Linked DNA regions of Homo sapiens. The protein of the gene in region 3 interacts with the protein of the main gene of each other region in a biochemical or structural test. Each region holds a gene or a part of one and is shown on either strand. Other genes may lie near its edges.

Evidence for each region.
Region 1: the proteins of NCF2 (region 3) and S100A8 form a complex in vitro, tested with the Homo sapiens proteins (one study listed by BioGRID).
Region 2: the proteins of NCF2 (region 3) and PLA2G4A form a complex in vitro, tested with the Homo sapiens proteins (one study listed by BioGRID).
Region 4: of the proteins of NCF2 (region 3) and PRKCD, one has a biochemical effect on the other in vitro, tested with the Homo sapiens proteins (one study listed by IntAct).

The regions. Positions count from the first base shown.
Region 1 is NC_000001.11:153,389,512-153,395,275, reverse strand, and holds S100A8 (protein S100-A8), read left to right. Parts: upstream 1-4,235; intron 4,236-4,299; exon of another isoform or gene 4,300-4,419; intron 4,420-4,701; coding exon of another isoform or gene 4,702-4,740; coding exon 4,741-4,881; intron 4,882-5,032; coding exon 5,033-5,173; 3' UTR 5,174-5,244; downstream 5,245-5,764. UniProt on the Homo sapiens protein: S100A8 is a calcium- and zinc-binding protein which plays a prominent role in the regulation of inflammatory processes and immune response. It can induce neutrophil chemotaxis and adhesion.
Region 2 is NC_000001.11:186,825,117-186,831,977, reverse strand, and holds the start of PLA2G4A (cytosolic phospholipase A2), read right to left. Parts: upstream 3,030-6,861; 5' UTR 2,943-3,029; exon of another isoform or gene 2,928-2,942; intron 1-2,927. UniProt on the Homo sapiens protein: Has primarily calcium-dependent phospholipase and lysophospholipase activities, with a major role in membrane lipid remodeling and biosynthesis of lipid mediators of the inflammatory response.
Region 3 is NC_000001.11:183,587,453-183,594,750, forward strand, and holds the start of NCF2 (neutrophil cytosol factor 2), read right to left. Parts: upstream 3,008-7,298; 5' UTR 2,878-3,007; coding exon 2,704-2,877; intron 1-2,703. UniProt on the Homo sapiens protein: Subunit of the phagocyte NADPH oxidase complex that mediates the transfer of electrons from cytosolic NADPH to O2 to produce the superoxide anion (O2(-)).
Region 4 is NC_000003.12:53,164,200-53,171,228, reverse strand, and holds part of PRKCD (protein kinase C delta type), read right to left. Parts: exon of another isoform or gene 6,126-7,029; 5' UTR 6,014-6,125; intron 2,527-6,013; exon of another isoform or gene 2,447-2,526; coding exon of another isoform or gene 2,409-2,446; intron 1-2,408.

The DNA.
Region 1 (5,764 bases), about 30 Mb from region 3:
TTAAGGGAAGAGCAATGAGTAGAACCTGGGTGACAGTCAACCCAGGAAGGCTTCCTGAGGGAGAGAAGGGTTGGGTCTGTTTTTTTCTACAACATGATGATGGATGTGAGGGTTACTCCTGACCCAGGGCTATTCATGAACCACTGATCTGAGTCCTCCGGTATCCCTGACCCCACCCACCTGAGACCTGTCCCTGCCCTTGCTCTGTTTCTTTTTCCTTTTCCTCTCCCCTGGGACTCTAGGGATCTAATGCAGAATCCCTTAGGGAGGGTCTCCTCTGCCTTCAGGAAATGCCAGAGCCCACTTTAGAGGGTTGTCTTTTCTGAGGGTTGGTCTGGGAACCGGTGTCCTGAGCTTACTGAGATAGAAATCATGGATTTTGAAAGAGTGTTGGGGGGTGATATACCACCTGCGCACAGGACTGCAGGGTCACTTAAGAAACTTGGTCTGGTTCCCTCCCCACCTGGTCCTTTGCGCCAAACATGGTGGATTGTCCCTGGAGCTGAGCTGGAGACCTTGTTTCTCATCAGTCAGGCTCTGGGGCAGAATTTGCCCCTGCTGCTCCGGGCCTGGCCTGCTGTCCCTCCCACACTTGCCATCAGCTTAGTTTGCCTTTCAGGACCTAGCTGGGCCCTCCATTCCTTGGGAGATGTCTGCACCCCATTCCCCTTTGCATTCTTTCCTGTGGAAGGGCATCTTCTGCCACACTGTGCTTGTTTTGTACTCTCCGCCGAGACAGGACCTCAGTGTCCCCATAAACGCTCAGCAGGTGTTTGGGGAAGGAATGCAGAATTGGGGCCTGTGGGGCTGGAATTGATGACCTAGATCTGTGCTCCTTCCTGCAGGCCCCTGGCTGTGTCTAGAGGCATGAAGACCATCGCCTGAGTTACTTTGGCCACTCTTCTTGCAGGCCCAGGGGAGAAATACCTGTCTCACCTGAGAAGTGCTGGGCTCCACAGGCATTGAGTACGAAGCAGGGGCACCCAGCCTGAGCCCTCCCTGCCCTCTCCTGCCCCCTTCTGGGGGTTTCTTCACCAGCTCTGCCTGCTCTGTCCTCATTTCCTTGGCCTCAGGGATGGACCTGTCAGGTCTGTTGGGACACACCCAGGGACTGAGCCCTTTCCTGTAAACATGACCAGGTTCCGCTCCCTCTAGGTTGCCCCATGTCCGCTAGGCTGCTTACAGCCTCTGCCTTTCCCCAGATGTGCTTACCCAAGTCCTGATACCTTTTGCTGCAAGGTCAGTTCAGCCTGGCTCCTGCTGTCCCCAAAGCACCCAAGGCTGTCCAGGGGCGCAGTTTCTGGGGAGGGGGCGACATTTCACGATCTTGCTGGTCAGCCTGTACATGATGTGGGAAGGAGGTCACCACTCAGGACTCCCTCACTGGACCAGGGGAAGGACCTGAAGTAATGCCCTGTGCCTCAGTTTCCCCATCTGTCAAATAGGGATAATTATACTTGTAATGTCCACATCACTAGGTTGCTGGGAATATCAAATGAGTCAGTGGATGCAAAATACTTTGAAAATATGATATGGTGCTTTGAGGCAGGTGCTGTTATGCTGGTCACATAGGATAGTACGTGGTGAATAATAGGTATTAACCAAGGGTGGATCCTTGGTTGAAAACTTGTCATGTCAGAAATGGCGTTGTTTTCCTAGATGGAGCTTGATTCATCTTTTGTCAAGGAAGTCAGACTGCATTTGTTTGATGAATTTATACCCTGCCTTCTTCCAGAAATGATTTAAGATGGCTGATTGTGATAAAGAGAATTTCTGCCTTGGATAAGGGAAGGGTCAAACTTAATTTTGTATTCATTTATCCCTCAATAAGTATTAATTGAACATGTAGTAGCTGCCAGGCCCTAGGGTTGTGAAAAGAAATGTGATTTCTTTTCTAAATGGTCTCCTGGTCCCAAAGAAAAGACAGACAATAAACAAGTGAATCATAACATAGCAGGGCAAATGCTGTGATGGGTAAGGATTTGGGTAGCATGGAGGAGAGAAGAACTAATTCTGCCTTGATGGGGTGAGGGCAGGTGGATCAGGGATGGACTTGGAGCAGATGATGCCTGAGCTGGATCAGGAATGGTGAGGAGGACATTACAGGGACAAAAGGCATTACAGGCAGGAATAGGAAGTGGATGCTGTCACATCACATCATGAGTCACTCAATCATTTGATACGCTGAATTACTATGTCTCTCTGTGGGGCTTAGTTTCCTCATCTGTACAATGGGCATTATAATAGTACATACGTCATTGGATTAGTGTGAGAATTAAATGATCAATGCAAATAAAGCAGCACTTAGAATAGTTCCCGGACATGGGAAAAGCTCAGTGAGTGTGAACTAGTATTTTGTCATGATTTGCTCTGATCAGTGATTGTGGCTGCTGTTATTGTGTGTGCTGGGCACTGTGCTGGGTCCCCAATGGCTCACATCCAGAGAGAGCTGGATTTATTTTGGAGGGTGAAAGACTCCCTGCTATGTTTATGCAATGGCTCATGCCCTTGTGCAATGCAGAGGGACCCCAAGCAGCCTCCATCTCCCAGGGCACGGTGGATCCCCAGCTTCACAGAACAGGAGAGCTGTGGAGGAGTGTGGGCAGCAGGGTAGGAATGGATTTAGCCCTCGGCAACAACACATGTCCCCACAAAACATTTTCTTCATCCATTCATGTGTTGAGGGACACTTGGGTTGCTTCCACCTTTTGGCTCTTGTAAATAATGCTGCTATGAACATGAATGTACAAACATCTGTTTGAATCCCTGCATTCAATTCTTTTGCATATATACCCAGGAGCAGAATGATGGATCATATGGTAATTCTGTGTTTATTTATTTGAGGAACAAACTTGCCGTTTTCCATAACAGCTGCACTATTTTACATTCCCACTAACAGTGCATTAGGCTTCCAATTCTCTATGCCCTCACCAACACTTGTTTTCTGGGTTTTAAAAGAAGTAGTAGTCATCCTTGTAGGTGTCAGGTGGTATCTCATTGTCGTTTTGCTTCATGTTTTCCTAAAGATTAGTAATTTTCATATGCTTATTGACCATTTGTATATCTTCTTCGGAGAAGTGTCTATTTGAGTCTTTTCCCCAATTTTTGATTGGTTTGTTTGTTTTTTGTTGTTGAGTTGTAGGGATTCTTTTATATTCTGGATATTAATCCCTTATCAGATATTTGTTTTACAAATATTTTCTTTGTAACAACAGAAACACACCACAGTCTTCAAGGTTGGAAGCCAGTTAATCTGAGTAGCATTTTGTTAGTGGTGGGGAGAGGATTTGTTCCTCCTGAAATCCTGGGGAATTGGCCACCTCCTCTTCTCCTCTTAGGCATGAAGCGCGTCTGGCTTCTCCAAAGAACTCTTCCCCTCCACTACCTCAGAGTTAGCTTCCTCTCTTCAGCCAGTGATCCTGGGGTCCCAGACACAATAATTAACCAAGAGAGGGTGAAAGGCTCCCTGCTGTGTTTATGCAATGGCTCAGGCCCTTGTGAAGTGCCGAGGGACCCCAAGCAGCCTCCATCTCCCAGGGCATGGTCCATCCCCAGCTTCACAGAACAGGAAAGCTGTGGAGGAGTGTGGGCAGCAGGGTAGGAATGGATATAGCCCTTGGCAACAACACATTTCCCCACAAAGCACCCACCCAAAAGAACAACAACGATAGTTTTAGTTTTTAGTAATGAGAACAATAGTTCTCATGACTAAAAGCCATCAGCCAGGACACGTGTTCTCAACCCTTTTGCGGTCTTTGGACCCTTTGAAACTCTGACAGAAGCCATGGAGGAATGTTCTCACTGAGTGCATGCACTCAAAATGATGCATTCAACTTCAATTCAGTTTCAGGGATGTATGGCCTGACCACCAATGCAGGGGATTAGCAATCGCAATAGTGGAGAGGGCATGGGAGTGGGAATCTGGCTGGATCAAGCAAGTGGATGCCAGCAGCCCAGAAAAAGAGCCCCCCTACCTGCTTTTTCCTTCTGGGCACTATTGCCCAGCAAATGCCTTCCTCTTTCCGCTTCTCCTACCTCCCCACCCAAAATTTTCATTCTGCACAGTGATTGCCACATTCACCTGGTTGAGAAACCAGAGACTGTAGCAACTCTGGCAGGGAGAAGCTGTCTCTGATGGCCTGAAGCTGTGGGCAGCTGGCCAAGCCTAACCGCTATAAAAAGGAGCTGCCTCTCAGCCCTGCATGTCTCTTGTCAGCTGTCTTTCAGAAGACCTGGTAAGTGGGACTGTCTGGGTTGGCCCCGCACTTTGGGCTTCTCTTGGGGAGGGTCAGGGAAGTGGAGCAGCCTTCCTGAGAGAGGAGAGAGAAAGCTCAGGGAGGTCTGGAGCAAAGATACTCCTGGAGGTGGGGAGTGAGGCAGGGATAAGGAAGGAGAGTATCCTCCAGCACCTTCCAGTGGGTAAGGGCACATTGTCTCCTAGGCTGGACTTTTCTTGAGCAGAGGGTGGGGTGGTAAGGAAAGTCTACGGGCCCCGTGTGTGTGCACATGTCTCTGTGTGAATGGACCCTTCCCCTTCCCACACGTGTATCCCTATCATCCCACCCTTCCCACCAGAGCCATAGCCATCTGCTGGTTTGGTTATTTGGAGAGTGCAGGCCAGGACAAGGCCATCGCTTGGGGCATGAATCCTCTGCGTACTGCCCTGGCCAGATGCAAATTCCCTGCCATGGGATTCCCCAGAAGGTTCTGTTTTTCAGGTGGGGCAAGTCCGTGGGCATCATGTTGACCGAGCTGGAGAAAGCCTTGAACTCTATCATCGACGTCTACCACAAGTACTCCCTGATAAAGGGGAATTTCCATGCCGTCTACAGGGATGACCTGAAGAAATTGCTAGAGACCGAGTGTCCTCAGTATATCAGGGTGAGGAGGGGCTGGGTGTGGCGGGGGCTCTCTGCCTGGTCCTGGGGCTGCCCTGGGCCAGCGGTCCTCCCTGCCACCCTTCATAGATGGCTATGCCTCGGCTCTCTCTGAGATCTTTAAACTCTGGCTTCTTCCTCCTCAATCTTGACAGAAAAAGGGTGCAGACGTCTGGTTCAAAGAGTTGGATATCAACACTGATGGTGCAGTTAACTTCCAGGAGTTCCTCATTCTGGTGATAAAGATGGGCGTGGCAGCCCACAAAAAAAGCCATGAAGAAAGCCACAAAGAGTAGCTGAGTTACTGGGCCCAGAGGCTGGGCCCCTGGACATGTACCTGCAGAATAATAAAGTCATCAATACCTCATGCCTCTCTCTTATGCTTTTGTGGAATGAGGTTCCTCGGTGTGGAGGGAGGGTTGGAAAACCCAAAGGAAGAAAAAGAAATCTATGTTATCCCACCCTACCTCTCACAAGCCTTTCCTGCTTTACCCCTCACCTGGCCTCTGCCCCACATTCCCTTCCAGCCCCTCCATCTTGAGCCATTGGATTTGAGGCTTAAGGATTCCAAAAAGTCCATGACACTATAGCTGATGATTTTACTAGTGGTTCTGAAATGGGTCGGGGATTTGGGAACAGGGTGGTAGTATAAGAACAACTGATACTGTTCTCTAAGCTAAATTTTAGCTTCCAGCTAAATGTCTTAGATGTGGCTCTTGGGAAATTAGAGTGATAGCTACATAGAAGTGTGTGGGTGTGTGTGTGTGTGTCTGTGTGTGTGTGTGTGAGAGAGAGACAGACAGAAAGAGAGCAAGAGAGGGAAGGGGGGAGAGGCTGATTGTGTGTGTGGTGTGATGTAGGTGGACAATGTTCAGAGTCCTCCATTA
Region 2 (6,861 bases), 3.2 Mb from region 3:
TAATGCATGATTATTAAAAAAAACATGTTTTAACAATGCATCTCATGAATGAGGGAGAAGCATGTTACAAAACAGCATGAACAGTGTGATCACAATTTTGTAAAACTACATGTATGTATAGAAACATATCTAGACATATAAACATGTATATACATGAACTTCTTGTCTGTCTCTTTGCTGATGCATACTGGGTACTCAATAGATATTTGTTGATTGAATTAATGATTGAATTACATTTTAAAAGTACCTTGGGGGAAATAATAGGTAATATTTTCTTTTTCTTCCTTGCAATTTTCTATATTTAATGAAATTTTAAGCAGTGAGTGTGATTTATCTTTATAATAAACAATAGTGTTATAAAAACTAATCATTCTGGGAAATGTCATTAGGAATTTTGGAATAAAAGTAGTAAATATAGACACCCCACAATCCAATAAAAAATAACTTGCATCTGATTTTCTTATTATGTTTCACTTACTGCATTCGGCAATAAAAGCAACAGATGTTACAGAAAAATGTCAAGCGTAATATTGTACAGTTAATTATTATTGGGGTTGAGTCTAGAACCTAGGTCACCTGGTTTCAGGCAAGCAGTTTTTTCCATTATACCAAGTTGCTTGGAGTTCTAGAATACCAATGAATAAATGACTATGTGGGTGCTACAATATCCACTGTTAGTTCCTTACTTATAAGTAAAATGATTTTATAATTAATCATTTTATATTATCAGAAAACTCCAAAGTTTTAAGAAATACTGCATTTTCATGTAATATGAATTGTCTTTGGGGATTTGTGAACTTCTTAAAGGTGTTTTTAAATTTGTGTGTGTTGGAATGGCATAATGTGCATTATTCTAGGGAGGGGTCCATACCTGTCACAAGATTATAAAAGTGTCTTTGATGGAACAAAAACAAAAGAAAGAAAAAGAAAAGAAAGAAAAAGTAAGAAAGAAAGAAAAAGAAAGAAAGAAAGAAAGAAAGAAAGAAAGAAAGAAAGAAAGAAAGAAAGAAAGAAAGAAAGCAAGCAAGCAAGCAAGCAAGCTATACAATCTGGAGCAAGAAGGAGGAAAAAACTGATGGTAAATAAAAGCAAACAAGATGAATGGGAACCACAACTAATTCTGTCTTCCTCTTTTTTATTCCTGGAACATAATTTTAATATGTAGATGATTCGATTTTATGACTGCTTTCTAAGTACCAGCACTAGAAAAGATAATGGGTTAAAAACATAAGCCAAATAACCTCTATGGAATGAACATTTTCAGTTGCTAAAAATCTATTTAATAATTTTTCTTTTCCTAATTAAATGTAAATGCAAAAATGCAAAACACTTCAGAATAACTTACTTTTTTTTTTTTTTTTTTTTTTTTGAGACAGAGCTTCGCTGTTTTCGCTCAGGCAGGAGTGCAATGGCGCGATCTTGGCTCACTGCAACCTCCACCTCCTGGGTTCAAGCGATTCTCATGCCTCAGCCTCCCAAGTAGCTGGGATTACAGGCACCTGCCACCACGTCCGGCTAGTTTTTCTATTTTTAGTAGAGATGGGGTTTCACCACGTTGGCCAGGCTGGTCTCGAACTCCTGCCCTCAAGTGATCCACCCGCCTCGGCCTCCCAAAGTGCTGGTATTACGGGCATGAGCCACTGCGCCCAGCCAGAATAACTTACTTTTTAAAAATATGTTAAAAAGATGCAATGTCTTATCTCAAAAAATATGCTTCCCCTAAGGGAAGTTTGTAAAACTCCTTTGAGCAAATGCACATTAAACACTTCTCTATGCATTTCACAATTATTGCTTAATTTAAAATTTAACTCTTCCGGAGCTAATGAAAGAAGTAAATACCTGTTTCTTATCCCAACCTCTAACTTGATTGGCAAGGTGTAGGAACCTGTAGAATGTAACTTTAAAATTCTTAACAGAGCTTGTTTCACTACAGTCCTCTACAAATATCCCTTGAGCCACAATTCTAAATTTAAACAACAAAGAGAAACAAAAATACAAATCTTCTTTGAACTCAAATTATATTGGCAAATATAACTTTAGAATTGACACCCATTCAGACAGTACGCCTCTAATACTCTCCATCTGCCTTAGCTGAATAAATGCTGACATCATCAACCCATATGAGGAGTATTTCTTGTTCTGGTTTTGGAGGTGAATTTATTTTTAAGACTAAAATGATTATAAATTGTAGGAGACAGATACATTCATCCACTGATACTTTAAAATCAAATACCTTTTTTTTCTGTTTTTTTTGGAAACAAAATTACTGAAATATCCACACTCAAAATTTAACTATGTAATTTGATCAAATCTTTTCTAGTATCTAGTTTTGAGATTTTTTTTTTCTCTTGGCAAGCCAAGTAACTTAGGGGAAGGGTGGATCATCAGAACACCAGTCCGTTTACAGTTAATTTTTCAATAATCCTCTTTCTTTCGCATAATTCTGCAAAATATTGACTAGCCAGGAAAGCGTCCCATAAGTAACAAAAATGACCAATTTTTAGAAATTAAAAGTTAAGTGAGTCAACAAAGTCTCTCGCTAAAGATCGCTAGGGCTGTCAAACAGCACAGCATGCTGCTGCTCAAGTTTGGGGATCAGTAACCATTGGGTGTCATCACGTGGAACGCTAATAAGCGCCACCTCACCGCCGTTTTGAATGCTAACTTTCTGGGATTCCAACCCAAAGAAACACCTTAATCTTTGACTCCACAGTGCATTTAGATCCAGGAAGGCAAATCTGCGTGGGTTTGAAGAAAATTGAGGTCCCTAATCTGTGTTTCACTTCAAAAGGCAGAGGACATGCTGACTTTTTAAAGCAGCGAGGTTTCCCCTCCGTCCTTTCTTCCTTCCAAGTAAACTACCAAGTAAAAGCTAAGGAGGGTGGGAGAGAGAAGTGGAGCAGAGGAAGAATAAATATATTGCTTACAGTTCCCAGAGTTACCTGAGAATCTTCAGGCTCCTCAATGCCTCTAGCTTTCAGTCAGGATCCTTTTTCAGCTCCGGACTTAGAGAAAGTCTTATCCTGAGTAGGAGGGGCTAAAATGTGGGCTGGTCTCCTTGCGCTTTTGCAGATGTTTTAAGGTGGAATTAAAGGGGAAGAGGGAGAACGCTCTCTTCTCATAGAAGCTAATATTGTAAATGTAAATGCTTAGTTATTAGAACCAGGAGTTTGAAGTCAGAAAATATGCTTAAATAATATGTAAATTAATCAGTCCTAAATTCCATGAGTGCTGTTGTGGATTTCTGTGTGTGTGATGTGTGTGTGTGTGTGTGTGTGTGTGCGTGCGCGCGTCTGAAATTGCTACTTGTCCTTAAGTAGTAACTACTTCCTCCTTTTTTCCAAAGGAGAACAAAATTGAAAAGACAGTGAATAACCTAGAGCATTTTTGCATTATTTAAAAAGGCAAAGTTTATAACAAACCCCAAATATAAAAATGTACATTTTTAAAAAATGAGTATCAGACCACTTTAAAAATCAAATCTGTTTAAATATTTCCACTCCAGACTCAGAACACCTGTGTTGATAATAATTTCTTTGTAAATTTAAGATTAAAGGCATACCAAATAATGTAATATATATGTTGAGATTTAGGGAAGAAAATGAAATCAGGTTGAATTCCAAATTTGCAGTGTAAATCCAAATACCTTATAGCACTGTAATGAAGAAGGTGCATTGTTTAAATGTACCCAAATTCCATGAGAATCAATTCATGTCTTTAAAGATTGACATGTTCATTTAGTATATCTTGTTTTTCAAACACAGGATCTTGTTTTTGCCTTTAATTAAATACTGAACTCACTCTCCTAACTCTCTTACAATATTTTCAAAGAATATAATTTCACTAAATCTTCTGGAATATCTGCTTTCTGTAGCCCAACATTCAACTCTTATTTGTTTTTATTTTTTTCCCCTAAATTCAACCTGGCATATTATAAATCTCTCTTTGAAAAAAAAAAAAGCCAGTAATGTCTTTTTTAGGAAGGATAGATTTATAATAAACATTTTTCGGGCTGGGCACGGTGGCTCACGCCTGTAATCCCAGCACTTTGGGAGGCCAAGGCGGGCGGATCACGAGGTCAGGAGATCGAGACTATCCTGGCTAACACGGTGAAACCCCCGTCTCTACTAAAAATACAAAAAATTAGCCGGGTGTGGTGGCGGGCGCCTGTAGTCCCAGCTACTTGGGAGGCTGAGGCAGGAGAATGGCGTGAACCCGGGAGGCAGAGCTTGCAGTGAGCCAAGATTGCGCCATTGCACTCCCGCCTGGGCCACAGAGCGAGACTCCGTCTCAAAAAAAAAAAAAAAAAAAAAAAAAAAAAAAAAAAAAAAAAAAAAAAAAAATTTCTCTTTCCAAAGAAATCCCTGAATTTCTAGAAAGGAGGTGTATGTTAATTAGAGGAGCAGAGAGCACACTGGTAGTTTTCATCTCTTTCCCCCAGACACAACTGGTGAAAGAAAGAATCTATACTGCAGGGCATGTTCGTTCTAAGACTCTGATAAAAAAGACTCCCTGGAAAAGCAGCTTCACAGTGCTTGCTTATAGAGCACAAAAAAAGTGCTCTAGTGCTTTTTTGATAACAAAAAGTTATAGCTCTCAATATTTCCAGATGATATCCAATAGTGTGTCATGCATTAAAGATAAAAAATTTATTTAAACGCTTTTAAAGAAAATGTCATTATATGTCATGGTTAGGGTTAATATATACGGGGAGAAGTTTGTCTCTTTCCCGCCTTACTAAATGAAGCTGATTTATCTCCACCTTTATAATGAATAAAGGCTGCTGCAGGTATGTCTTTTCCTCTCTGGAATCAGTGCAGACCAAATCCCATTTACCCATTTTGTGGTTCTATGGCCTCCTTATCTCATCTATTTTGGCTCACTACTTGTGATCTCACTGTTCACATAGACCCCTAGGTGGATAGTACAAGTTCAGATTTGCCGTCTTCACTTTGCCCAATTTCCTCCAAAAATATTTTCAGCATTGACCTACTGACTTCAAAAACCTCTGCTTCCACCTTAGGTAAGATAGGCCCTGACTTCCATAGCGTGCTTCAGTCTATAGGATCAATTATGTCTGAAGACCCCTCTCCACTTGGTTTGTCCATCAACAAAGATTAGTCATCTGGGACCCATCTGAAACTGAGAAATATCATAGCAGCTTCTTTGAATCCAATTCTACCATTTGCACTATTTCCAGCTAATAAGTTTCATGCAGTTTGCTAGTAATTTTCCACATCTTTAAAATTTTAGAAAGAGAATAATAAGCTAAGAACTAGATAAGTAATCAAAAGGAACAACCCCAAAACTGGCCAAATTAACTAACAAAGAACACCTACTTGTCAAAAGCCATGGCTCAAAAACCCCAGGGGGTTGGGAGGGGGAACCCTGATGTTTGTATGATTGATTTTTCTTTCTTTCTTTTTTTTAATTTTACTTTAAGTTCTAGGGTACATGTGCACAACGTGCAGGTTTGTTACATAGGTATACATGTGCCATGCTGGTTTACTGCACCCATTAACTCGTCATTTACATTAGGTATTTCTCCTGATGCTATCCCTCCCCCTGCCCCTCATCCCACGACAGGCCCCCGTGTGTGATGTTCCCCGCCCTGTGTCCAAGTGTTCTCATTGTTCAATTACCACCTATGAGTGAGAACATGGGGTGTTTGGTTTTCTGTGCTTGTGATAGTTTGTTCAGAATGATGGTTTCCAGGTTCATCCATGTCCCTGCAAAGGACATGAACTCATCATTTTTATGGCTGCATAGTATTCCGTGGGGTATATGTGTCACATTTTCTTAATCCAGTCTATCATTGATGGACATTTGGGTTGGTTCCAAGTTTTTGCTATTGTGAATAGTGCCACAATAAACATACATGTGCATGTGCCTTTATAGTAGCACAATTTATAATCCTTTGGGTATATACCCAGTAATGGGATGGCTGAATCAAATGGTATTTCTAGTTCTAGGTCCTTGAGGAATTGCCACACTGTCTTCCACAATGGTTGAACTAGTTTACATTCCCACCAACACTGTAAAAATGTTCCTATTTCTCCACATCCTCTCCAGCATCTGTTGTTTCCTGACTTTTTAATGATCGCCATTCTAACTGGTGTGAGATGGTATCTCATTGTGGTTTTGATTTGCATTTCTCTGATGACCAGTGATGATGAGCATTTTTTCATGTGTCTGTTGGCTGCATAAATGTCTTCTTTTGAATGATTTTTCTTTCTTTATGTGGAGTTGTTTTCTGTTATCTTTTTTACTATTTCCAATTCACCTATCTTCTGCTCTAACTATATGAAACTGCTTTGTTTCTGATAAACTTGAGCAGGGTAATGAGGTAGTATATGAGAATTAAATCTGGATAGAAAATGAAGATGATTAGCCAGCATAGGGTACTAAGAGAGAGTTGAATAGGGAATCTAATCCAGATTGCAGGTAAAATCAGAAAATGGCTACCAATCAACTAATTTACTTATAATAATGTATCCTTCTATTCCACAGGCTATGCTTGAGTCTTCTGGTCCAACTGTATTTATAGTAAAATAATAAGTTGATATTTTTGCTACTTATTTGTATCTGTGAATATAATTAACATGAATCATTTCTCTTTTTAGGTATTAACAAAATCAATCAGGTTAGTAAAATAGCAAGTCACAGAAAATGATTTTCTCACCTTGTCAAGTTTTCTGGCATCCCACTAATTGACCTCTACCTTTCATTCAAACTAAGAGACTATTCTCCTTGCACATCGTTTCCCTAAATTCCACTAGAATAATCCTACTCAACCTGCAAGGCTTAGCTCAAGTACTATCTTGTCTGGAAAATTTCCCTACCCTTTTCCCTGTCCAGCAG
Region 3 (7,298 bases):
ATGTGGTGGCACATGCCTGTGGTCCCAGCTACTTGGGGGACTGAGGTAGGTCAATCGCTCAAGCCCAGGAGGTGGAGACTGCCGTGAGCTGTGACGGCACCACTGCACTCCAGCCTGGGCAACAAAGTAAGGCACCCTGTCTCAAAAAAAAAAAAAAAAAAAAAAAAAAAAAATCCAATGATACAAATAAAGACAAAGTGGACTATAAGGGTGCAGACACTAATGGATTATCACCAACAGAAATCTTAGAAGAAAAGAAACACTAAAGCATTTTCCCAAAGGAGCTCATCATTTTAAAAATGGACTTGACAATATGAAGCGCCTTCTTTGTAACTGTCTCTGACCTTCTCTGAGACTAGAATTCAGAATAGATAATTTAGACATTTACCTGATACTAATAAAAAATACATATCTATATTTAAAATATAGTTAGTTATATTTAATGACCTCATTCCCAAGTTCCTTTTTCATTAGTGTAGCTTTCATTTCTATTATCGCTGTTTTAATAATATGATTTAATATGATTAGATAGAAGCTTTGAGCCAGTAGACACTATGTTACTAAATCAGTACTTTAAAATCTTTGGTCTTCTGTCTTTCATTCATATGAATTTAACTGCTGTTTGCTCTAATTTCTTTGAGTTCTCCTAGTTTGAGTAGAGTACAATTTTACTGTGAAACAATGCAGCGAGACTGTGCTATGAAGTGAAGGTAGAGTTTTTGGAGGTGATAATGATGTCAAACTTAAAGATACAATTCCTATCCAACACAACAGAGCACCTTGTCCAGGAGAGTAGTAATTACTATTTATTGCTCTGTGGAAGATAAAAAAGATAGGGAAATAGGAGAAGCTTCTTTGAAAAATGAAACATCATTAGACGGGCTTGGTGGTGCATGCCTGTAATCCCAGCTACTTGGGAGGCTGAGGCAGGAGAATCACTTGAACCCAGGAGGCAGAGGTTGCAGTGAGCCGAGATTGCACCACTGCACTCCAGCCTGGGTGACAGAGTGAGACTCCATCTCAAAAAAAAAAAAAAAGAAAGAAAAAATGATATCTAATGTAATAATGAAATTTTAACCCTTGTTGCATTTCTTGTATTCCTATGAATGTATTGAACATTCAGTTTAAATAAATAATAAAATTTATTGCAAATGAAAATAATTAAAATATTATATAAATTGTTATATTTGTTTACTATACAAACTTATACATGAATAGTATACAATTAAAATGATAATGAATAAGAATGCATATAAATGCTAGTAGGAAGGGCTCAAGCAGGAAAACAAAGAAAGGCAGAAGGAATGAGAAGGCTAGAAGCAGAGGAATGCCAGGAGAAACAGAGACATGTGGGCCTGAAGGCCTGGGAGCTGAGAAGTGAGTGGTGGCCCACACAACCTTGCCAAGGATCCCATATCCAGGCCAAGGCAGGAGGCTACAGTCCCTGCTGGCATAGCTGTGCCCAGACTAGCTGCCAATCTCTTCTCCTGGACAATGTGCACTTTGTGTCCATCAGCCCTCAGAATGTGTGGTGCTGTTCACTCAGCCCCTCAGCAGGCCCCTGAGAGGAGGTGGGGCCATGTCCTTCCTCCAGCCAGAGGTGGGGGGTCCTGCCATGCTCTGCCTTAGAGCCTGAGATTGACTTGTCAAGCTATGTGAGAACATTTCAGTCACTTCTCTGTCTTCCTGTCAGGAGGGTGTGGCTGAGGCTTGTTTACCTACTGTTGGAGTGTGGAAGGGACTGATTCTTTAAGGGACCTGGGGAGTCAACCACTGCCACACCTTGCAAAGACTGGCAGTAATCGGTAAAAATAATAACTAACTCTTATACAGTGGTGTGAAGTTCCACGAGACATTAATAGTTTGGCATCTCACTTAATTTTCATGATATTTAGAAACTCAGGAAGCTGAAAGCCAGATGTCTACATAGGCTACATAGCTTGCTTAAGACTAAAAGTCCAGAGAGAGACAGAGGCTAGGATTCGATCCTAGATCTTCTCCTTCCAAACTCCATACCCTTTCCACCTTACCACAACCAATCAAAAAAATAATTATCGAGAATGCTTAACTCCATACTATGGTATTTGAGTGAGAAAACATAACGAAAAAGATGCGAGACATCCCACACCATGCCCCCAGCAGACATCACTAGTCAATCACAGTACAATTTCCTCTTGCCAGCCTCAGCATCTTTAAAAGAGTCTCCTTTATAATTGATCAGAATTGTCACTTGGGATAAAAGCTATTTTTTGTAAGTGCCTCCCTTAAATCTCTTGAGCAGGCAAAGTCGACACACATGAAAGTCTTGGAAAGCCAAAAGAGGTGCCTTAGAATCAATAATCAGGTGTAAAGCGCTGGGATAGATAGAGATTCTGTGCCCAGAAGGAGTTCTGTGTAGAAGAAAGTACGACTAGGACAGCCTTCACAAAGGTGTTAAAGACACTTGTAGAATGATTTTAATTTAGAAGATGGAGAAAGAGGCAACCCTGGCTGCCCCTCACCTGCTCTCCACCTGGAGAGCTTTTAAAACTGGCTGCCTGGGGCCCCTCCCAGACCAGTTAAATCAGGCTGTCTAGGGGTGGAGCTTGGGCAACTTTTGTTCTTTTCAATCTCCCCAGAGGTTAGGTTTCCGAAATGCAATGGGGTTGAGAATCATAATAACAAATGCACAGAGGAGGCCCGGAAAGAGGCACCTCCACTCACCTTCTCTGCTTCAGTCATGTTCTTCAGGATAGTGTACATGCAGCCAATGTTGAAGCAAATCCGGGAGTGGGGGTCCTGGACGGCACTGAAGGCATCCAGGGCTCCCTTCCAGTCCTTCTTGTCCGCTGCCAGCACCCCTTCATTCCAGAGGCTGATGGCCTCCACCAGGGACATGATTAGGTAGAAACTAGGAGGCCAAGAGAGCTGCCAGGAGACAGAGAGAAGACAGGTTGGAGCGTCTCCCCTAGCAGGGCTGCCTTAGTGGCCCCCAAGGTGTTCACTTTCTGGGCCAGATGAGTAGAATGGGGCCCAGCCTCCCTTAAGATAACTTCTCAGTGTTGCAAATGCATCAGGAAATGTCCCCACCTTTTGGCAACTGACTCATAACCCTACCATGAGAGAGAAAAGGAAAGAAGCAGAGAGAGAGAGGGCGAGTAGGGGTGGAGTGTGGAGGAGAGAGGAAGTACATCAGCTGCTGCCTGAAGGATCAGTTCCCCAAAATGCTTCTGCTCTGTCACCCAGCTCCTCTTCTCTCTCCCACCCCTGTTCTGTGGCAGCTTCTGGCCAAAGTTCTGCTTCTAGAGCCAGGGTAACCTTGGCAGGTAGAGGCACCTCCCTGGTGATAATGACAGGAGGCAGCCAAATGCCTAGGCAGATAGGGGCAGGTCCCTGGTGAAACCCCACCTTCAAGCCAAAAACAGCCTGAAGGCTGAAAGACTAGGCTACTGGTCCCAAATGAAACCCGTGACCTAGAGTGAGAACTTCTGTTCCTGTTTGTCTGCTCTTTCCCAATTAATTATTTCTGACTAATGCCTTTTAACCAATTGAATGTTGCCTTTTCCAGTACTACCTATGTCCTGCCCCTCCCCTATTCTGAGCCCATAAAAGCCCCAGACTCACCCGCACTGGGGGGACTTTCCTGCCTTTGGGTAGGGGAACCACCCCTGCATCCCCTCTCCACTGAAAGCTGTTTTCATCACTCAATAAAACTCCCCACCCAGGCCGAGTGGGCAGGCCATCTCCTGCAGCAGGTAGTGTGGCCCACTGAGGCCTGGGCAGGGTGTCACCAGCCAGAGGTTCCTGGCTTACAAAGTGATGGAGAAAAAATCCTGTGTCACTGGGCCTTGATTTCCACACCCTTGTTAAATGGGAGTGTCAGATGAGAGGATAATTCTTTCCAGTCTTGAATGAATTCCTTGCTCACTTTTTTGTAATCCCATAGGCTGTATTAATATGTTAGTGTTTATCTTGAGCTGAAATTATCATTAACAAATTTTTGAGACAGGATAATCTTTGGAGATCCATCTGATCTGGGCCTGAAATAACTTTTTTTTTTTTTTTTTTGAGACGGAGTTTCACTCTTGTTGCCCAGGCTGGAATGCAGTGACACGATCTCAGCTCATTGCAACCTCTGCCTCCTGGGTTCAAGCAATTCTCCTGCCTCAGCCTCCTGAGTAGCTGGGATTACAGAAGCCTGCCACCACGCCCTGCTAATTTTTGTATTTTTAGTAGAGATGGGGTTTCACCATGTTGGCCAGGCTGATGGTCTCGAACTCCTGACCTCAGGTGATTCGGCCTCCTCGGCCTCCCCTCAAAGTGCTGGGATTACAGGAGTGAGCCACCGTGCCCAGCCGAAATAACTTTTATGAACATTCATGAAGTTCAGAGGGGACCAATTTCCTGCAAATGTCAAAATTGGGAGCCACATGACAGTGAATTATGACTTCTCCCATCTTCCAGTGAAAAATTGAAGAGATGAAAGTCCTGCACTGATGACTAATGGATTTACTAGTCTCTGAAAAAACAGATTTAAGAGTTCTTTCCTTGCTTTTCCAGAAAAGTAAAAATCAGTAAAACCTCCCAGAGGAATAACTGGGGGTAAAGGGTATAGCCAATTTGGCTTGCTAAAATCCAGGCTTCTTTTTAGGTAAAATGCATGTTTATGGGGGTCAAATACTTAGATGCAAACTCTTGTTTTGTAGCAACTGAAAGAATTCACTCATTATCACCAAGCTTCCCCTAAAAGCCTGAAAATAAAACTTAAAAATGTATACTCCACAGTGCTTGTAGGATTGAAGGTGTGAGAATTAAGAAGACATGTGTGTCTTTGTCCAGATTGTTTTCCTGTGTTTACAAGGCCTTCCCAGCTCTCTTCTTTGCCTGGCAAACTCCTACTCATCTTTCAAAGCCCAGTTTAAATGTCACCAACTGTGCTAAATCTAGCCCTGAACTCTGGGTAGTAGGAGAATTTTCCTCTCCTTTGTACCACCTTTACCCAAAAACTTGCATCATACTTACTGCAATTTATCTCTTTATCTGCTCAATTCATGGGCTCCTTGGAAGTTGGGACCATGCCTTTTCATTCTAGGATCTCTAGCACAGATACTCAATACATGATGAAGGGATACATTCTAAAAGAAATTAGAAATCATTGGTAAATGACCTGCAGGTAGCAGTGATGGCAGAAAGAGGTATTGCTATTCCATCTAGTGAATAAATAATCAGGACTTGAATAGCACATTAATTATTCCTGAGAAAACCAAATGGATTTGTAGCTAAATTAGACTTCATTTTTAAAAAATGTTTTTGCCCTCCTATTATCCCACCCTGACACTCAGAACTCTCCTTAATCTGACTGCCAAGACTTTTCTAGCCTTATCCCCAGAACTTTCCTTCACAATCCCATACAAACTCTGCTGCTTACTCTTCTCCCGCTATGCCTTCATTCCTGCATCTGTGCGACTCGTGCTAGTTCCTCTTTCTAGGCTGCCCTCTCCCATGTCTGCACCTTCAAACCCACCTTGCATAGCCTTCGAAGGCCTGCTAAAATAGCACTCTCCTTAACACACTGCCCTGAAATCAGTCCTGCCTGAAAGCGCTCAAACCCATGATCTCGCCTTCTGAACTCCTGCATCTCCTTCTCCGCACCTCCCATGTGGCCCTTAATCACTCTTCACCAATGTATGTGCATGCAAGTCTTAGCACCTCAAATAGTGTGCCTCAGGAGGAAGTCCTGGGCTAACCCATGTTTGTATCCCCCAGGGCACTAGCAAAGCCATTCATGCTCCATTTCATCCACTTTCCCTCCCCTTCTCCTGTCACCACTCAGGCCAAGCCACTATCAACTCCCAGGTGAACATGATAGTCTTTTAACATTTCTTTGCCTCTCCATCCAGATTGAGCTTTTAAAAACACAAGTCAGATCACTTCATGGCCCCTGTTTTTAAACCTTCCATGGCTTTGCACTGCTCTCAGGATATAACCCGAACTCCTTCCCATGCTGCAGGAAGCCCCCTGCCTGCTGCCCTGTGCTCATTCCAGGTCATTTCCCCTCCTCCTCTCCCAAGAACTCCAGCTACACAGGCCTCCTTTCATGGTTTCATATGAGCCAGCCTCTTCCTCCGCCCATGTAACACTCTTCCCCCAAGCCTGCCTGGCTAGTTCCTACTCATCTTTCACTTCCTCAATGAGTGGCCTTTCTAGATCCATGACCTTGCTATGTGCACGGTTCTCTCTGATCATGTATTTGTTACAGTTTGTAACTGTATGTCATCTGTGACATTGTTTCTGTCCCTCAATGCAGGGGCAGTCTATTTAATCATTACTTGGTGCTGTTAGTAGACGGTCTGTTCAGCCACTGTCCATTCGCCTTCCTCCTTTTGGTAGAACCCCAGTTCTGTTCAAGCCTCCAGTTTCCTGAAGCCATGCGCTTCAGGAGGGAAAGTCTGCTAAGAATTTCTGGGAAAGATTTCTTCCCCAGTGATAAAAAATAAAACACATGAGAAGAAACAGCACTTGTTTCTCTACTAGACAGCATTGTGAGATGTGTCTGGAATATGGCAGCTGTCTTATAATCATGAGGGGAGACAACTAAGAACAAGCCATTGTCTGAAAGAAAAGAGAATGGAAAATTACAAAGAGCTCAGATGCTTAGTTATGCTGATGAGATGTGTTGCATTATCTGTTTTCTGCAAATCTGGCTGGGCACAATGGCTCACATCTGTAATCCCAACACTTAGGTGGGAAGATCCCTTGAGGTCAGGAGTTAGAGACCAGCCTGGGCAATGAAGCCAGACCCCATCTCTACAGAAAAACACTAAAAATTAGCCAGGCATGGTGGCACATGCCTGTAGCCCCAGCTTCTCAGGAGGCTAAGGTGGGAGGATCATTTGAGCTCAGGACTTCAAAGGCTGCAGTGAGTGATGATCACGCCACTGCATTCCAGCCTAGGTGACTGAGCAAGACTCCATCTCTTAAAAGATAAAAATAACGTTTTCTACAAGTCTGAAACTGATCTACCTTGGAATTTCTTGTTTGGTTAGATAATAAGTTTGTTTATTGTTTAAGTCATTCATATCAAGTTTTCTATTAGTTATGGTTTAAAATGTTCTGACACACACACCACTGGATTCTCGGTACCTAGTACAGGGCTTGGCATATAGCAGGTGTTCAATAAACATTACTTGTTAAATAAAATTTGTTGAGGCATTGGTTGGGTAACTCAGTTTCATCTCGATATTTTCAAAATTATTCCAAAATTCCAAATAAGCAAGATTTGCATATGATTGGTTAACACTACAAACTACTGTTGCATG
Region 4 (7,029 bases), on a different chromosome or scaffold from region 3:
GGTGCCCCAGGTACCCCTGAGAGAGGAACAAAGGCCCCTTCATGGCAGGAGCCAGAGAGCCAGATCCTGTGAGGACAAGGGGCCTCTGTGAGGAGCCAGGGTGGGGGATGCAGCCGGGCCTCTCCACGAATAACCACACGTGTGCACACAGGCACACTCGCCAACCCAAACAGCACATAGGGAGCCCCACTCGACATTAGACACACACGCACACAGTTGGAGCCACAGGTACGTACACACACTGCTGTGATGACACAGGGGCACACGTACACACACACACACACACACACAGAAACACACATGCACTCACCGGCTCTCACATCTCAACAGATACCCGGGCCCACACAGACCACACCCGACCACATAGGCTCCACACGCACGTGGAGTGCCACAAGCTGTGATGTACACACTGGCACAGAGATGCTCCAGGCAGACACAGAAACAAACATACAGTCCTGGAAGGACCCCACATCCCTGACTAGAGTCTGGCACCATGAAGTCCAAATGCAGCTTTTTCCACCACAGCCCCCAGGCACAATGGCTGGGGAATGGAGGAGGGGCAGAAGGGCAGCTGGTGTCAGGCTAGGCTGGGCCTTTCCACCCAGGGAGACGAAGAAAGTCCCTCTTGATCCAGAGCAAAGTCTAAAGTGTGTAAGGGAAGGAGTGGGCTGGTCAGGCACATCACTGGGCAGGCCTCCGCCCGCCCGCCCACCTGCCTGCAGGGCCCTGAGGCTATGGTGGAGGTTGAAGGTCACAGGTGGCAGTCACAGGCCTGGCGCGCAGGGGGAGGGGAGGGCTTGAACCTATGTTGGTAGGGCAGCAAGCCGGGCACCCCAGGAGCAAGTTCCTTGAGCTCCAGGCTCACTGTGCAGAAACCGAAAGAGAGGTTGAGCAATTCAACCAAAGCCACAAAGCCAATGGGGCAGACCCAGGGGGAAGTGGGGAGAGAACTTCCAGCTCTAGTCCTAGAACTGCCCATCTGGCCTCCAATGGGGTGAGGGTATGTGTTTGGAGATGGGAACAGCTCCTCCATCAGCCCCCAGTACAAGAGCCCTACTCCTTAGCCCTTCTTTCTCCCACAGAGTTCCCACGATTTTCCAGATGGTTTACCATTGGAAACAATCGTTTTGTGTTTGGGAGAAGGCAAGATGGCCACCTAACCCTTTTGCCAGTCATCCCCAGGATCTGGGCAGGATCCACATGATGCTTCCCCACTTTGGGGATATTGAGAAAGCTGGGAGAGAGGCAGGACCATCCCGCATGGTGCGCCATCCCACAGCAGGCAGCGGACAGAGGAACCGGCGAGCTTGGACCTAGACAGGCCTAGCTCAGATCTGCTGCCTGGGTGCTCCGCGATCTTGGCCCAAGTGCTCTGGTGTCTTCCAGACTTCCTTGGAAAGTGGGAAAAGAGGCTCTGTTAAGCCCCCCAGCCGCAGGGTGCCCTGTTCTGGCCTGAGGCTCTGGGCAGAACTGGGCTGAAGCAGGCAGCATGAGTCCACTGGCAGAGGCTGGCCAGCTACTGCCCCTCCCGGGGCTCCAGCCTCCCTGTCTCAACAATGGAGACCTCTAAGCTTTCTCCAGCCCTGACACTGGAGGACCCTGGGATCCTCCTCCCACCCCAACAACCCCAGCCCACAACCTACACCACGCAGACATCTGATCTAGCCTCAGGCCTTGGCGACTGCCTGCTCTGCTCTGCCTGTTTACCCAACACGGCCATAGACATGATCCAAAGCTTCCGGAGCTGTTGTGAAAACAGCGGCTCAGCCACCACAAGCCTGCCCTCCTGGGTGCCTTGGCAGAGACCTTTGAGGGACAGCCATCCCAGTCCTGTTCGTGGGCCTCTCAAATGCTCCCCCACCCCTTAGAAGGCCTGTTGAGCCCTCTCCTCCCCAATCCTGGCTTTAGGCTCCCGTCTCTACTTTGGGCCCAGACCCTCCTGAACTTCAGGCTTGTGGCCCCACCTGCCTCCCTGGCTTCACCACATGAATGACTCCAGAAGAGCTCAAGCCTGCCCACACCAGTCCCCCGCCGTTCCCCTCCCAGCGCTCCTCATCCACTAGGAGTGCACGAGCTCAGGCAGTGGCTCAGGCCAGACAGCTCCCCCTGCTCCCCACACAATAAGGCCATCCCGTCTGCCGCTGCAGCCTGTCCTCAAGTCTCAAATCCTCTTCTCCCACCACCACCATCCCCAGGCTCTGCACCTGTCTTCTGACTGCTCTCCATCCTCTACCCCGGCCCGACAGTCCCCCTGTTCCAGCCACCAGACGGGGCTTTTCAGACAGATTTTGTCACCCCCTGCCCAAGCCCCCAGTGCCTCCCATTGCCCCTCTGACAAGCCCAGACTCCTCCCCTCAGCCTGCTCCATGCAGCCTGCCCCCCGCCACCCCCCTCCCCATCACCGTTACCTCCCTGACCTCTCGGGCAGGCGCTGCCTTTCCCTCATTCCTGTGCCCCAGCCACGCTGACCCCTTTCAGTTCCCGAAGCAGCCAGTTCCTTCCCGCTTAGGAGCCTCTGGGCTTGCTGTTCCGTCTTCCTGCTCCACCCCACCCCACACAGTGGCTCCTTCCCATCGTTCATGTCTCACAGGACACCACACCCCGTGATCTGCCCATTTCACAGACGAGGCAAGTGGGGAACGGTCCAGTCCCTGGCTCAAGTGTGCACAGCCAGTAAATATTGAGCAAGGATTCAACCAGGGTCTGTCTGATGCCTGCAGAAGTCCTGCTCCTAAGCCTTCAGGATACCCTCAACCACACTTCCCGCCCAGGCCCATCCACCTTTCGCTCTCCAGCCCTCAGGCCCCTGCTGTTTGCATCACTGTCCTTACCACTCCTCAACACTCCTCATCCCCAGCCTCTGGGCCCCACACAGTGAAGGCCAATGCTTAGCCCAACCCTAACTGTGCTGACCTTCTTCGTGTCCCTGGGACAGGCTGGGCCCTGCCCCCAGCTGCCATGGGTGTAGGGGGTTTTCTAGCTCCCCCTACTCTTCTAGCTTCCATCAGTCCCAGATGCCCACTCCCTGCCCCAGCCCACAGGCTGACTCCAGGGGTCTGAAGGGTAAGCAGGCTGGCAGGAGGGCTTACGTCCACCCCCTCGTTCCCAGCCAATTCTCCCAGCCTAATGTCCTGCAGGAGGCCAGAGCTGGAGAGGGCCAAGGGGAGCCCTGAGGGGGCAGCAGGCAGCTGCAGACTGCCTTTCCCCTCCCTGCATCCATTTGTCACGAGATCTATTTTCTCCCTTTGAAAGGGAGTGAGGGGGAGAAGAGCAGGCAGGGGCTGGACTGCTGAGTGGGTGGAGCTGCTCCAACAGGAGCTCCTCTCCTCGGAGGGCATGGAACCTACTGAACAAGTAGGGCACTGCCACTGGAGGTAGAATTGAGGGGGATGAGGGAGTCAGAGACCTGGCTCCTCAGCCAGGCTCCACAGCCACCTGGCCATGTAACACTGGGCCAGTGCCCAGCCCATCAGATAATAATACCCCCTCATCAGTCCCACTTGCTATTTTTTGAATAGTTCCCATGAACTGGGCTCTAAATGCTTTACATAACTACAGTTTCTACTCATTCAACTCTGACAATGCACTAAGCACGATGCCAGCTACTTTGCATATGTTATCTGTCATTTCCGCACAACCTCATCAAGATGGATGCTATCATTATCTCATCTGTCAGGGGGAGACTGAGGCACTGAGCGGCAGAGCCACTTGCCCAGGTTCATTCATAGAGCTGCTGGGAGCTGCCTAGTCACTAAGATGCAGCCCAGCCATCACCTCTCTCAAGGGGGCCATGCCTACCAGAGTTGATGCTCTTGAGCCTCGGCTTACAGGCTCAGAGCAAGAAAGGAGCCACGGTTGTGGGGACTGCAGGGGACTTCGTGACCTGCCCCCTGCCCTTCTCCTAGAGCCCCCCAAAAAGGCCTGGGCAGCCCTGGCAGTGAAAAGCCTGGTCAGTCAGCCTAACCCGGTGGCCAGACGCTGCTCCCCTGGGCAGGCAAGGCAGGGGCGGAGCAAGGCGTAGAGCCACTGACAGAGGGCTGGTCAGTCCCACTCCAAAACCACTTCCTGGGCAGCTCAGAGGAAGTAAGCCTCCGGAAACGCCTTGAACAGATGGGCCTCTCTCCTAGGCCCAGGCTTTGGGAAGTGAACAGACAGCCCCTGCCAACCTCTCAGTCCCTAGAGCCCAGCAACTCCACTCCCTCTAGGCATGGACACCGTGGGGGACACAGGAGTTGATAGGACCCCCACCCACTGTGAGCACCTTGGCCCCATGGCCAGACAGCCTACTTCCTCTGCTGTAGCAGCAGGCACACAGTGCTGGCACAGCTGACACAGCCTCTCCCCCGCATTCATGCCTCCCATCTCCCATGCCAATCCCTGGTCGGCCTGGAGCCTGGGGCCAGGTGGGCAGGGTGGCTGCTGAATGCATGGGCAGAGCCCACCTACCAGGGTGGCCCAGCCCCCCTTACTGAGATCACAGCCACACCTGGAACTTGCCCCTCAGGTGCCAGATGCAGGCGACCTGACTGGGCTGTAACTCTGACCAGGGACCCCTTCCTGACCCCAGAATGGGCACAGTGCGGTATGTGTGGGCAGGCATTTGAGTGCATGGATGCCAACGGTAACTGGGAGAGCATCTGTGTGTGTGTGAGTGTGCCATGGGTGGCTGCATGTGAGCACCTGTGTACCTGCATGCCCACATGTGTGGTGCACGTACAGGAACTCATGAGTCTGTGGGTGTGCATGCCCACTGCAGCCTAGCTTGCCATATCCCTGTGTGAGCACGCATATGTCTGTGCAGCTGGAGGGTGATGTCTGAGGGTTTACAGTGGGCTGTCTCCAAGACTAATCAAACTCCTTACAAAACAAGGCTGAGTGACGGAAAGGGCTGGCTCTTCAGAACTTAGGTGGCAGAGGCCCCTAGACAGCCAAAGGCGCTTTACTTCCTCCACACCAGGTTTAGGGACAGGTCCAATACACAGAAGGCCCAGTGAAGACTGCTCCTGTTCTGTCCCAACTCCTACCCCAGAGTGAAGGCCCTGACCTCCCTTCTGCCCCCAACCCAGAGTCAGGCCCAGGAAGCCCAGCCTTTATGGCTCTACTCACAGACCTATAGGTGCGTAACAGCCAGTAGGGTTGGCTGTGAGGGTCTGCTCAGGGAGCACTCCTGGAGGAAAGACGGTCTTTGCTATCCCCCCACTGTTACTCCGAGGCTCCAGCTTCATTAGCACCCATACCCACCACCAGTACCCTGTTCACTGGGGCCCGGTCACCCAGTCACCAGCCTGGAATGAGTATGGAGTCACCCACAGCAATGTTTTCATGGTAATAGGGCTGAAGGAGGCAAGGCTCGCCCCAAAACAAGGAATTTCTAGCTTTCTGAGGGGATTCAAAGAGACTGCAGCCTTCCCAGCATTGTTCCAGACTCTGCCTAGCTCCCCTTGAATCTGGAAGCTGAAGAGAGGGACTGAGCCCTGCTCGGGCTCCAGAGAAGCTGGGGAAAATGGAGGGGCCTGGGGTGTGGAAGACAGCTCAGCTGTACCTGGAGCTGGAGACCCCATTCCATCCCCCTGCAGTGTCCAACCCACTGTGGGGCCCACGGGGAATTTCAGTGTCCTTGTGTGATGATGAGGTGAGTTTGAGGCAGATACAGGGCCATGGAAAAGCTGACACACCCACCCTCAATCTTTGGCCCATGAGCCACCCTCTCTAACTGACCAAAAAAGCGTTACTACTTTTTGCCCCAAATTAATGGTAGGCCCCAGGCCTCTGAGCTCCAAGGTGAGAGCATTCTGGGGCCACAGCCAGGTTAGGCAGGAAGTTCCTCATGAGCAGAGAGCCCCTCATAGACAGGGCAAACAGCTGCGGCCCCTGGGCACACAGGGCCCACAACCAGATCAAGGACTCTGCATGCATGCCCAACCCCATCCAGTTCCACAGCAAAGGACAAAGAGGCCAGAGAGGAAGGCTACACCGGTGCACCATCCATCTGCCTAAGAGAACTCAGTCCTACCTGGGGCTCCCAGCTCCTGCTTGTCCTTAGTCCTGGCTCCCGCTGCTGCTACAACGCACCAACCACCAGGAGAAACGGGCCTGCCCCCTTGCCTGGCCAGTTCCCTGCAGACCTGTAGGAACAGGAGGAAACAGCTGAGCCGGGAGGCACCGCCAAACAGGCTCTCCCCGTCTACCAGTCCCAGCATGGCTGACGGGCCCAGTTCAGTCTCTCCTGGACCTAAAACCTCGGGTCTCTCTGGATGTGGCTTTCCCTTCCTTGAAATGTGGTGTTGGGCCCAACTTTTCCTGGGCACCACTATTTGTCCACTCCATGGTAGGGGCTGGAACACTGTGTCCCTGCCCTGAGCACATTTCCAGCCTGGTGAGGAAGCCAATAACACAGCAAAAACCTGTTCCTGACCCTCCTGTCTGTGGGAGGTTGCCTTGCAGGTTTAGGAGTCCTAGGGTGCAACAAAGTACCACCACTTTATGTCCTGGTGCAATTTCCCTGAGCCTCAGTTTTTTTAATGGGGAAACTACTAGCCTCTTCTCCCCAGGTGGTTCTGAGGTTCCAATGATGTGGCGTGCCAGCTCCTGTGCTGGACTCATGTTGAGAATGCCAAATGAATAGTGACTTTTTTTTTTTTTTAATGTGGCAGGGTCTCACTCTATCGCCCAGGCTGGAGTGCAATGGCACGATCTTGGCTCACTGCAACCTCTGCCTCCTGGTCTCAAGTGATTCTCGTGCCTCAGCCTCCTGAGCAGCTGAGATTACAGGTGCGCGCCACCACACCCAGCTAATTTTTGTAGTTTTGGTACAGACAGGGTTTCACCATGTTGGCCAGGCTGGTCTCAAATTCCTGACCAAGTGATCCACCTGCCTCGGCTTCCCAAAATGCTGGGATTACAGGTGTGAGCCACCGTGCCCAGACTGAAGAGTGACATTTTTTAATCTCTTGTGCCTTACAGTTCAGGTGATTCTCACATTACTATTGTGCCCATTACACAGCTGAAAAAACTGAGGCCTGGAGATAT